2 separate regions of the Homo sapiens genome follow, and region 2 is linked to region 1. The links come from fine-mapping of genetic effects on gene expression. A gene starts in region 1. The other region holds a variant in brackets. All regions are shown on one strand. Distances are between the middles of the regions.

The links.
Region 2: its variant is fine-mapped to the expression of ZNF670 in whole blood (TOPMed, PIP above 0.99).

Annotation. Positions count from the first base shown.
Region 1 is chr1:247,075,533-247,080,915 of GRCh38, reverse strand. ZNF670 (zinc finger protein 670) reads left to right here and starts at 2,105. Exons shown (of 4, transcript NM_033213.5): 1 at 2,105-2,322. The coding sequence starts at 2,320. It overlaps ZNF670-ZNF695 (ZNF670-ZNF695 readthrough (NMD candidate)), which reads left to right and starts at 2,105. Exons shown (of 7, transcript NR_037894.2): 1 at 2,105-2,322. RefSeq lists silencers at 2,071-2,140, 1,929-2,242.
Region 2 is chr1:247,024,897-247,030,279 of GRCh38, reverse strand. The region is part of intron 1 of ZNF670-ZNF695 (ZNF670-ZNF695 readthrough (NMD candidate)); the gene reads left to right. Among named protein-coding and RNA genes, the nearest start is that of ZNF695, 20 kb to the right of the region's middle. The variant A/C (reference allele first, on the strand shown) is at 2,404.

The sequences.
Region 1 (5,383 bases):
AAAACATAAAAATAGAAGAAAACGTTGATAAATATTTCTACAAGCTGTGAGGATAAATCGGGCTTATGACTAAAACCAAGAAATATTAAATTAAAACATTGATAAAGATACAATATAAAACCAGAATATTGTGAGTGTTAGGAAACGCCATAAGCCAAGTAAAAAGGAAAATGCCAAATGGTCATCTTTTTGCAACGTATATAACAGAAAAAGGGAAGCACACAGTTTCTGTCTGCTCCAGAAAATAAGAAAGCTCTCAAAACATATGGTACAAGGACAAAGGAGGCAATGTATAGAGCCCCTCACTTACGATGGGACAATTTGGCCGGGCGCGGTGGCTCACGCCTGTAATCCCAGCACTTTCGGAGGCCGAGGTGGGTGGATCACCTGAGGTCAGGAGTTCCAGACCAGCCTGGCCAATATGGTGAAAGCCTGTCTCTAGTAAAAATACAAAAATTAATCAGGCGTTGTGGTGGGTGCCAGTAATCCCAGCTACTCAGGAGGCTGAGGCACGAGAATCGCTTGAATCCGGGGGGCAGAGGTTGCAGTGAGCCGAGATCATGCCACACTGCACTCCAGCCTGGGCAACAGAGTGAGACTCGGTCTCAAAAAAAAAAAAAAAAAAAAGGGATAATTTGAGCTCAAAAAATAGATACAGACTGCAGTGTATGGAATCTCATTAAATACACAAAAAATAAGGTTAGAAAAAAGTCACTCACATTTTTTTTGTTTGCTGAGGCCACGCCGTCATTGTTATGACAATTGATTAAAGGGAGAATCAAGCTTTTATTCTTCCTTTCCTAATAGGGTAGGTTTTAATGTAATGGAGAGAGTTCATGAGAAAACGCCATTTTTAATAGAAGAATGAGAACTAATACCTGTAGAGAAAATAATTAGAAAACCACTATTTGGCAACTCTCACTGAGATAAGTGAAATTAAGAAATAGTAATCAATAAATAATGAACAGTTACATGAAAGGAACAGGCAGACATTCCCGAACAACCTTAAAATAAAGTGGTAAAACCAGACACGTGTATCCAAATGTGCAGGCTGAATTGAAACATGCTGGAAGCTTAATATATAGAGTGATTTTTCATTAATAATATATCGATTGTAAGGCCGTCTGAGCAGGCTGCGCCATGGTCAAGCCATTGTGATCCCTGTGACCCACACGTGTACATCCAGAAGGTCCTGGAGCCAGAAAGTCTGGGACAACAGGAAAACCACAAAGGAAGAAAAACGGCTAGTTTCTGTCTTAGCTGATTAGCCAACCTTGCAGCATTTTACCGTTGTGACGTGCACTACCCTAACTGATCAATCAGCCTAGTGACACTGTGACCCCTCCCTCTTGTGACAATGTACTTTGTGACATTCTTCCCCCGCCGGTAATAAACGGCCCCTGACTGTAACTTTCCACTGCTTACCCCTCACCTATAAAACTAACTCCAATCCCACGACCCTCCGCTGACCCTCTTTTCGGACTCAGCCCGCTCGCACCCGAGTGAGTAAACTAGCCTTGCTGCTCACACTTAACCTGTTTGGGTAGTCTCTTCAATTAGGCGCGAGCTTAACATCGATCATATATTGAAACAATATTTTTGGATATATTTGGTTAAATAAATCATTGTAATCAATTTCACGTGTTGTTTTCTTTTCTATTGCTACTGGAACACACGCGGCTCACATTTTATTTCTATGGGGCGTTGCTACCTGAGAGGACATTGTCTTTTCAAAATTCAAGCTGCCTCTAATCCCACTAGAAGCAAGAAAAAAAAAAAAATTCAGGCTGCCTCCTCAAAAGACCAGAGGCCAGGAAGGTTGTGAAATCTGAAATTTTAGAATAATTGTCATCATAGTGTTTCCAATTGTAAATATCACAAATATTACTCATAAATGGACATAATCCTGTGTATGAGCTTGAATGGGAAAGTCCCCCGGGGGGCGCCAGGTCTCAGCACAGGGCAGAATCCATGCCTTAGAAAAGGACTGCAGGGAAAGAACCTGGCCTCACTCAGCGCCGTGTCTGATTGCATCTCCCGTCACTCAGGACTGAAGGGGCGGGGCCTAAGGCCCTGTCCAATCGGGCGCTGGGAAGGGGACTGTACTCTCAAGCGCGCCGCGAAAGGAGGGAGCAGCTTCCGGGACCTGGCGCGGCTTTTGTGTTGGGCAGCGCGAATGTGGCGAGCTCGGTGCGTCTCCGCTGCTCCTTCCCCTTATCCCTGGGAGGTCCAAGTGGTCCCGCGGCAGCTTCTGTTGCTCTGGGACCTGCAGGTCCCGGAAGGTCCTTAGGGAGGACCCCAGACACCGGAGACTGGGAAATGGTGAGTGTGCCGGCCAGGTGTCTCGGGAAGGGGAAAAGGGAACCGCCAGGAAGCGGTTGTGGCGAACCCGGACCTCCCCGCGGTGCCGACCCGAGTTTCCGCCGGCGCCTCGCGGCCTTAGTGGCACAGGATGCGGGGCTGGACCCGCAGCCAGACCCCGGGCCGCCTGGCTTGTCCCTGCCCCGCCGCTTCGGCCAGGCCCGGAACCCTTTCTGGGCAGCTCTGCCTCTGTAGACCCGCATCTCCCTCGGATCGTGCGGTGCCGACGGGAGGGTCCTCAGGGGAGAGTCCCGACTTGGGGTTCGGGGTTCCTGCGTGGGAGGAGCTGTGGTCTGTGAAGTCTCCAAATCCTCCTTTCTCCTGTTAGAAAGAAAACTGAGGCGCCGTTAAAATATTAAGGAGTTTATTTGAGCAGAGAGTCGTGAGTTAGGAAGCCACCAGCGTGGTTTGTGGTTTGGGGAAGGAAAGGGTTTTTTGTAAGGAACCCGAGGAAGCAAACCCAATTAAATAATTGATCGTGTACAGTTATGTAGTCACCCCATATAGACTGTGCAGCCAGATATCTCCTGGTTATGTAACCAGAGGTTAATTGGTGGGTTCGTGGTTGTTTAAGGCTGTTTTGTTTCCCTTTAAGTTATTAATTTACAAGACAAGCATGAGTTACGTTTTGGTTGGTTGTTTATTCATTCATGTGTGTATGTACATGTGTATGATGGAGTCTTGGACTCGGGCTCAAGCGATCCCCCCACCTCAGTCTCCCTAGTGCCTGTGTTTAATTATTTTCACATAACACTCCACATTTCTAAGTGTATGGCAACAGGATCTCACATCAACGACCCTGTTCCCACAGCCTAACTCTTCTGGGGCTTGTAGTAAAACCCTAAATTTCCAATTCTTTTCCTATATTCAAATGCAACATTATCAAGTATTTGTCTTTTATTGTACATTTCATACAGATGAAGTGTGTTATTTTTTTCAGAGTAGTGAGTCGTTCTGAAAATATTTGTTTTCACTCTTAAAATATTTCTGAACATTACACATGAGTGGAAAGCAGAAAATAATCACCTGACAGTTAATTGTAGAAAAAAAAAGTCTTTGTGCATCTCCTAATTTTATCTTTTTTGAGTGTGCACATCTTACCAGAGTATCTTTGGGGTGAAGTTCCCTTTTGGAAACTTTAGAGGGTGATATGTCCTCAGCCACCCTTATATCTTTTCTTGGTCCTCTGTTTAGCAGCCAGATCTCTTGGAGTGTCTAATGAATACCTTCTCCTGGGTCATCTCCTCACAGAGGACAGTTTAAAATATGGAAGTAGAGCCTCTCCAGGCAGCATCTGGGTGCCCTGGAGTTGAGAGACGTCTCCTAGTATACTCTTCGTTTAAAAAACAAATCCCTGGTGCATTGGGATTTTCTTCCTCCAACCCCAGTTTTCATCATTCCTTGGAGACACGTTGGTGGCAGCCAGTCAGATGCTGGTATTAAGGGAAAAATCTAGAAATGATTCCTGCGCTCTGGATTTTCTCGGACTTGGGAAAGGAGAAAAACTATCTCAAAGGACAAGGAATACCCACCCCAGTGAGGTGGTGCAAGAACCAGAAAAGCACCATCATCAGAATTATGTAAGAAGAGAGTTGGCTGGGCGTGGTGGCCCACGCCTGTAATCCCAGCATTTTGGGAGGCCAAGGGAGGCAGATCACTTGAGGTCAGGAGTTTGAGACCAGCCTTGCCAGTATGGCAAAACACTGTCTCTACTAAAAATACAAAAATTAGCCCAGTCTGGTGGTGCATGCCTGTAATCCCAGCTACTCAGGAGGCTGAGGCAGGAGAATCGCTTGAGGCCAGGAGGTGGAGGTTGCAGTGAGCTGAGATGGTGCCACTGCACTCCAGCCTGGGTGACAGAGGGAGACTCAGTTTGAAAAAGAAAAAAAAAAAAAAGAGAGTTTATTCTAAAGTATTGCAATGGGGAAAAACACCAGGTATAAGAGCTGCAAGCATGTTAAAGTTTAGGCAGAAAAGGGCTTAGAAATTCAGGCACACAGGCCAGGTGCGGTGGCTCACGCCTGTAATCCCAACACTTTGGGAGGCCGAGGCGGGCGGATCACGAGGTCAGGAGATCGAGATCATCCTGGCTAATGTGATGAAACCCCATCTCTACTAAAAATACAAAAAATTAGCCGGGCATGGTGGCGGGCGCCTGTAGTCCCAGCTACTCAGGAGGCTGAGGCAGGAGAATGGCGTGAACCTAGGAGGCAGAGCTTGCAGTGAGCTGAGATCACGCCACTGCACTCCAGCCTGGGTGACAGAGCAAGACTCCGTCCCAAAAAAAAAAAAAAAATTCAAGCACACAGTGGGGCACAGTACAGTGTCTCCTGGGAGGGTGGTCATTGAGTATTTCTGTGAGGAGAATGGGCCTGTGAGGATCTCCAAAGTGATGCAGTGACCTGACCTGACTCTTGACCCAGAGATGTCTGTGTTCTGCCAGCATGACCCCTCCCTGAGTTTATTGCCTTGAAAAGATTTATTCACTTAGTTCAGTTTCAGTTTTTCATTAACTTTAAAATATGTTTTATTCAGAGAGCTTGAAAGATTAAAAAAAAATATTTCCAAAGAGACAAGAAGGAGGTGGATTTCAAGGGGGCAAAAATCTATTCATATTCCATTTGTTAAAAATTCTTGTTAACCTTTTTCTTCCCAAGAGTGAGTGTAGTAAGTTTCTCAAGTCTGTTCTTTTTTGAAGGAGATTTCAAATGGAATTCTAGGACTTTGCTTTGGGAATGTGTATTAGTTTGTTTTCATGCTGCTGATAAAGACATACCTGAGGCTGGACAATTTATAAGAGAAAGAGATTTAAAGGACTTATATTTCCACATGGCTGGGGAAGCCTGACAATCATGCGGAAGGCAACAAGGAGCAAGTCACGTCTTACGCGGATGGCTGCAGGCAGAGAGAGAGAGAGCTTGTGCAGGGAAACTCCAGTTTTTAAAACCATCAGATCTCATGAAACGTATTCGCTATCACCAGAACAGCAGGGGAAAGACCTGCCCCCATGATTCAATTACCT
Region 2 (5,383 bases), 51 kb after region 1:
TTCAGTTTTGGTAGCAAAAGATTAGAAACCATTTTTAAGTGTCTTTCTAAATAATCAGTTGCATAGCCTGATCATTACACACACCTATATAAAAATGAGCAGCAGTGACGAGACCAGCTCAGTCAGGGAGACCCTAACCCAGCAACGCTAGAGGAATTAAAGACACACACACACAAATATAGAGGTGTGAAGTGGGAAATCGGGGTCTCACAGCCTTCAGAGCTGAGAGCCCCGAACAGAGATTTACCCACGTGTTTATTAACAGCAAGCCAGTCATTAGCATTGTTTCTGTAGATATTAAATTAACTGAAAGTATCCCTTATGGGAAACGAAGGGATGGGCCAAATTAAAGGAATAGGTTGGGCTAGGTAACTGCAGCAGGAGCATGTCCTTAAGGCACAGATCGCTCATGCTATTGTTTGTGGCTTCAGAATGCCTTTAAGCAGTTTTCTGCCCTGGGTGGGCCAGGTGTTCCTTGCCCTCATTCCTGTAAACCCACAACCTTCCAGCGCAGGCATTAAGGCCATTATGAACATGTCAGAGTGCTGCAGAGATTCTGTTTATGGCCAGTTTTGGGGCCAGTTTATGGCCAGATTTTGAGGGGCTTGCTCCCAACATGTCCCCCTTCTTTGATTTGCAAATTGATAAAAGCAAAGGCAGCTTTGTCATGGTGAGCTACTTCTCGCAGGAGTCAGGATCCACATCTGCAGACTATACGAAGACAAGCAACACAGATTAAAAGCACAATCATCATTGAAATCACAGAGATTCCAAGTGTTTTTATCCATTTTAATGGGTTACTAGCTGCTAATTTGTCTGCAGCTCCTTCAAGCACTCCAGTTCCTGGCATTAAGGTCAGATGTGCCTGGGATGCTTTAAATATTTGTTCTTTTAATTTTGTGATATCCAAAAACAAGTTTGTAGAGTGTCCTTCTAGATGCTTTTTTATTCTTTCCCAAATTTTTATCTTATTAAGAGCATTTAAAAGTTTCCACAAATCCTTATGTTTAGCTCCTACAACGGGCCATATCATTTGAGGTTGAGATGCCATTATACCGCCATGATTCCAGATAATAGGAACTCTTGCTATACTTCTTATCATTTCTGCCATCTGACCATTTTGTTCAGACCAGCTGAACATAATGTGGCCATGGCACGCAGACTGAGAGGTGCAATTTAAGCTAAACATCCCCTTAGGGGACAATCAATAATGATTCCATAGGAATTGTTGTGCAGCACCTCTGCCTCTTCTGCAATGCAATCTTCCTAAACAAGTACATTCTTTTTTTCTGGCCAGGTTCAATTTTGTTTACAAATAGGTTTTTGAGGGCAGTATGCCTCAATTATAGGAGCAAATTTATTATGGTAAAAACTGAGATCAGAAAACATGTGTAACTGTGTCATAGTGATTACATCCAGGCATTATTACCAGCCAAGATTGATAAATATGCCCAGTAAGTGTAATTGTTCTCTGTGTCAGCCCTTGTTGAAGGAATACTCACAGCAGTGGTGATAACCACTATCATAGCTACCATTAAATTACTCATTGTGACTGGTTGTCCCGCTTTCCTCAGGTTTTCTTCCGCCATCTGTGACAGCTTCTTGATCTGTCCCCAGTTGGGTGGCTGTGTTCAACAGGTGTTGCTCGTGACAGGTGGGGTCCTCCTCAGCATCAGTCTCGACATGGCTGCAACCAGGGGGGTCCTCGGGATCATCCCGGAATCTCTTCCTCTGCATCTGGCTCATGATAAAGTTTCAGGTGTCTTCGTGGTATCCAAATAGGCTGTTGATTTTGGCCTGGAGAAACACAAGCATAACCTCTACCCCAAGTTATTATTTTACCTATTTCCCAACTTTTTGTTATTGGATCTCTCCACCAAATCAGTTGTTCTGTTTCTGTCTTTGCAGGTGGTTTCTGTAGATGCTGTTCGGCTGCTGATAACATCTGGCCTTTGGGCAGGGTCAAAAAATTTAAAGTTAATAATGCTAGGTTCAGATGGATCTGTGGGGTTCCATATTCTCTGTCTCCCCCTTTCTGCTTTTGCAACTGCTCTTTTAGGGAGAGATTTATTCTTTCCACTATGGCTTGTCCTTGAGAATTGTATGGGATACCATTAATGTGTTCAATATTCCACATAGAGAAAAATGTAGCTAGATCTTGGCTAGTATAGCCTGGGGCATTATCTGTTTTAATAGAAGCTGGAATGCCCATCACCGCAAAACACTGCAAAAGATGACGTTTAACACCGGCAGAAGACTCTCCTGATTGGCATGTAGCCCAGACAAAGTGAGAAAAGGTGTCCACACATACATGTACATAAGCTAGTCTCCCAAACGAGGGAACATGTGTGACATCCATTTGCCAAAGAGAGTTAGGTTCCAATCCTCGAGGATTAACTCCTC[A/C]TGTAAAAGATGAGGAATGTGCCATTTGGCAAGTTGGGCATCTCTGGATAATAGCTTTAGCTTCTTTCCAGGTAATACTGTATCTGCGTTTGAGACCAGAGGCATTAACATGGGTTAAATTGTGAAAGTGTCTAGCATTAGATATTGCAGTAGCAACTAGGCGATCAGCCATTTGATTCCCTTCGGTCAAAGGTCCTGGAAGAGGTGTATGAGCCCTAATGTGAGTTGATGTAAAAAGGATGCTTTGTACTTCTAACTGCTGTTTGCAGTTGGGTAAATAAAGTCATCAGTTGTTCATCTTTTTGAAATCGTAACTGAGCATTTTCAATTAACTGTGTGGAATGAACCACATGTGAGGAATCAGAAACCACATTAATAGGCATATCAAAATCAGTCAATACCTCAGTTACAGCTACAAGCTCCGCTTTTTGAGCTGAAGTGTAGGGCATCTGAAAAACTTTACTTTTCAAGCCAGAATAAGAAGCTTTACCATTACTAGACCCATCTGTAAAACAATGAAAACACTTAGCAGGCTGCAGGTTGTTTACTGCAGGAATTGTAAATGCAAACCATTCACAGTCTTGCTCAGCTAAGGGGATAGTAAAGAAACAGTCTTTTAAATCTATGACTATTAAAGGCCAATTTTTTGGAATTATAGCAGGAGAAGGCAATTCTGGCTGTAATGCTCCCATAGGTTGTATAACTGAATTGATGGCTCTTAAATCAGTTAACATTCTCCATTTACCTGATTTTTTCTTAATTACGAAAACTGGAGAATTCCAAGGGGAAAATGTTGGAGCTATGTGCCCATTTTTGAATTGTTCAGTAACTAATTTCTCTAAAGCCTCCAGTTTCTCTTAGCGGCCATTGTTCTGTCCAAATTGGCTTATCTGTTAACCATTTTAAAGGTATAGGTTCTGGAGGCTTAACAATGGCTGCCATCAAAAATGACATCCCAATCTTTGGCGGGAACTTTTTAAACCTTGCAAATTTTTTTCTAGTCCTGTACCAGGGACATACCCCATTTCATGCATCATATGTTGACTTTGAGGGCTATATAATTGTTCTGGAATTATAATTTGTGCTCCCCATTGTTGTAATAAATCTCTTCTGCATAAACTTATAGGTACAGAAGTTATAATTGGTTGAATAGTCCCAGGTTTTCCATCGGGCCCTTCACAATGCAAAATATAGCTACTTTGATATACTTCAGGGGCTTTACCAACTCCAACTATGTTAAATTGAGCAGGTTGAATTGGCCACGCGGATGGCCAGTGCTGTAGAGAAATGATTGAAATGTCCGCTCCTGTATCTACCAAACCTTTAAATTTCTCTCCCTGAATAGTTATTTCACAGGTAGGATGTTTATCAGTAATTTGATTCACACAATAAGCTGCTTTGCCTTGTTTATTTGTGGTTCCAAATCCTCCTGTTCGTTTAGTTTCACTTTTCCCCATTTCCACATATGGCACAATCAGGAGCTGTGCTATGCGCTCTCCTGGCTCTGCCTTCCAGGGAACAGAAGTAGATATAACAATTTGAATTTCCCCATTGTAATCTGAATCAATGACTCCTGTATGTATTTGTACGCCTTTTAAACTTAAACTACACCTTCCTAAAAGTAATCCTATTGTCCCCGCTGGCAAGGGTCCACAGACTCCTGTTGGGACCTTTTGCAGGGGTTCTCCAGGCAGAAGGCTCACAGCTTTTGTGCAGCATAAATCTACTGTGGCACTACTGGCTGTGGCGGGGGACAGACGTTGTACAGGGGTGAGGGAATGGCCTGAGCTGGAAATGCCCTGGTTTAGAACGGGTCCCGGGACGGGCCCCTCATGGTGTTTCCCGAAATTGGGTTCCCATCTTTATCAAACTTAGAGTGACACTGACTAGCCCAGTGTTTTTCTTTTTACATTTTGGACATATTTCAGGCTCAACAGTTTTCTTCTTTCCCCTATCTGGCGGCCTGACTCGCTGATTTTTTCTACATTCTTTTTCAGTATGACCATGCTTCCTACAGTTAAAACAAGCTCCAGGAAATGGAGTATTTCCTTTATCCACTATCAGTCCTGCTATTGCCTGTGCCAACAAAGTAGCTTTATGCAGATTACCTCTGATACCATCACAGGCCTTGATATAATCAACTAAATATGCTTTCCCCAATTTAAAAGGAAAAGGCTCAAATGTAGCTATAATATTTCCCTGTTGATCTGGGGGGTGTATTCTAACAGGGAACTGCCAAGCCTCTAAATCACCCTCTTGTCTAGCTTGCTGAATTCCTGCCTGAATAGAACTAAGAGGGGTTGCTCAAGGCGCTGCTCGAACAGTCACTGGGGCAACTACTTTTTGCCCAGTGTCCTCCAGAAAAGAAAGATCTGGAGGGTCATTTTCTTCAAGATAATAAGGAGGGGGTTCAGAAGGGTAGGGATGAACCTCTCCTTCCTTTGCCGCTTTAGCTTTAGCTGGTAAATAAACATGCTCTGTACCCTCTTCTGTTACTTTGCTGTACTCTCCTTCCTCCTCATCATCAGTGTGAAAAAGCTCCAAGGTGGAAGGAACCAGAGCCCACACTTGTCCCATTGTTACCCTGATGCTTCCGAGCTCCCCTTCTTACTTACCACGGGGATTGCTTTAAGAGTACTCTGGCGTCCTCCAGCTAGTTCCACATTCTCTAACTGTTGCTCTGGTGACCCTTCGACCTGGATTCAAGCCCCCACAATGGACGTCACTTGCGGAGACCAGCTTGGTTGGGGAGATCCTAACCCAGCAGTGCTAGAGGAATTAAAGACACACACACAGAAATACAGAGGTGTGAAGTGGGAAATCGGGGTCTCACAGCCTTCAGAGCTGAGAGCCCCGAACAAAGATTTATCCATGTATTTATTAACAGCAAGCCAGTCATTAGCATTGTTTCTATAGATATTAAATTAACTGAAAGTATCCCTTATGGGAAACGAAGGGATGGGCCTAATTAAAGGAATAG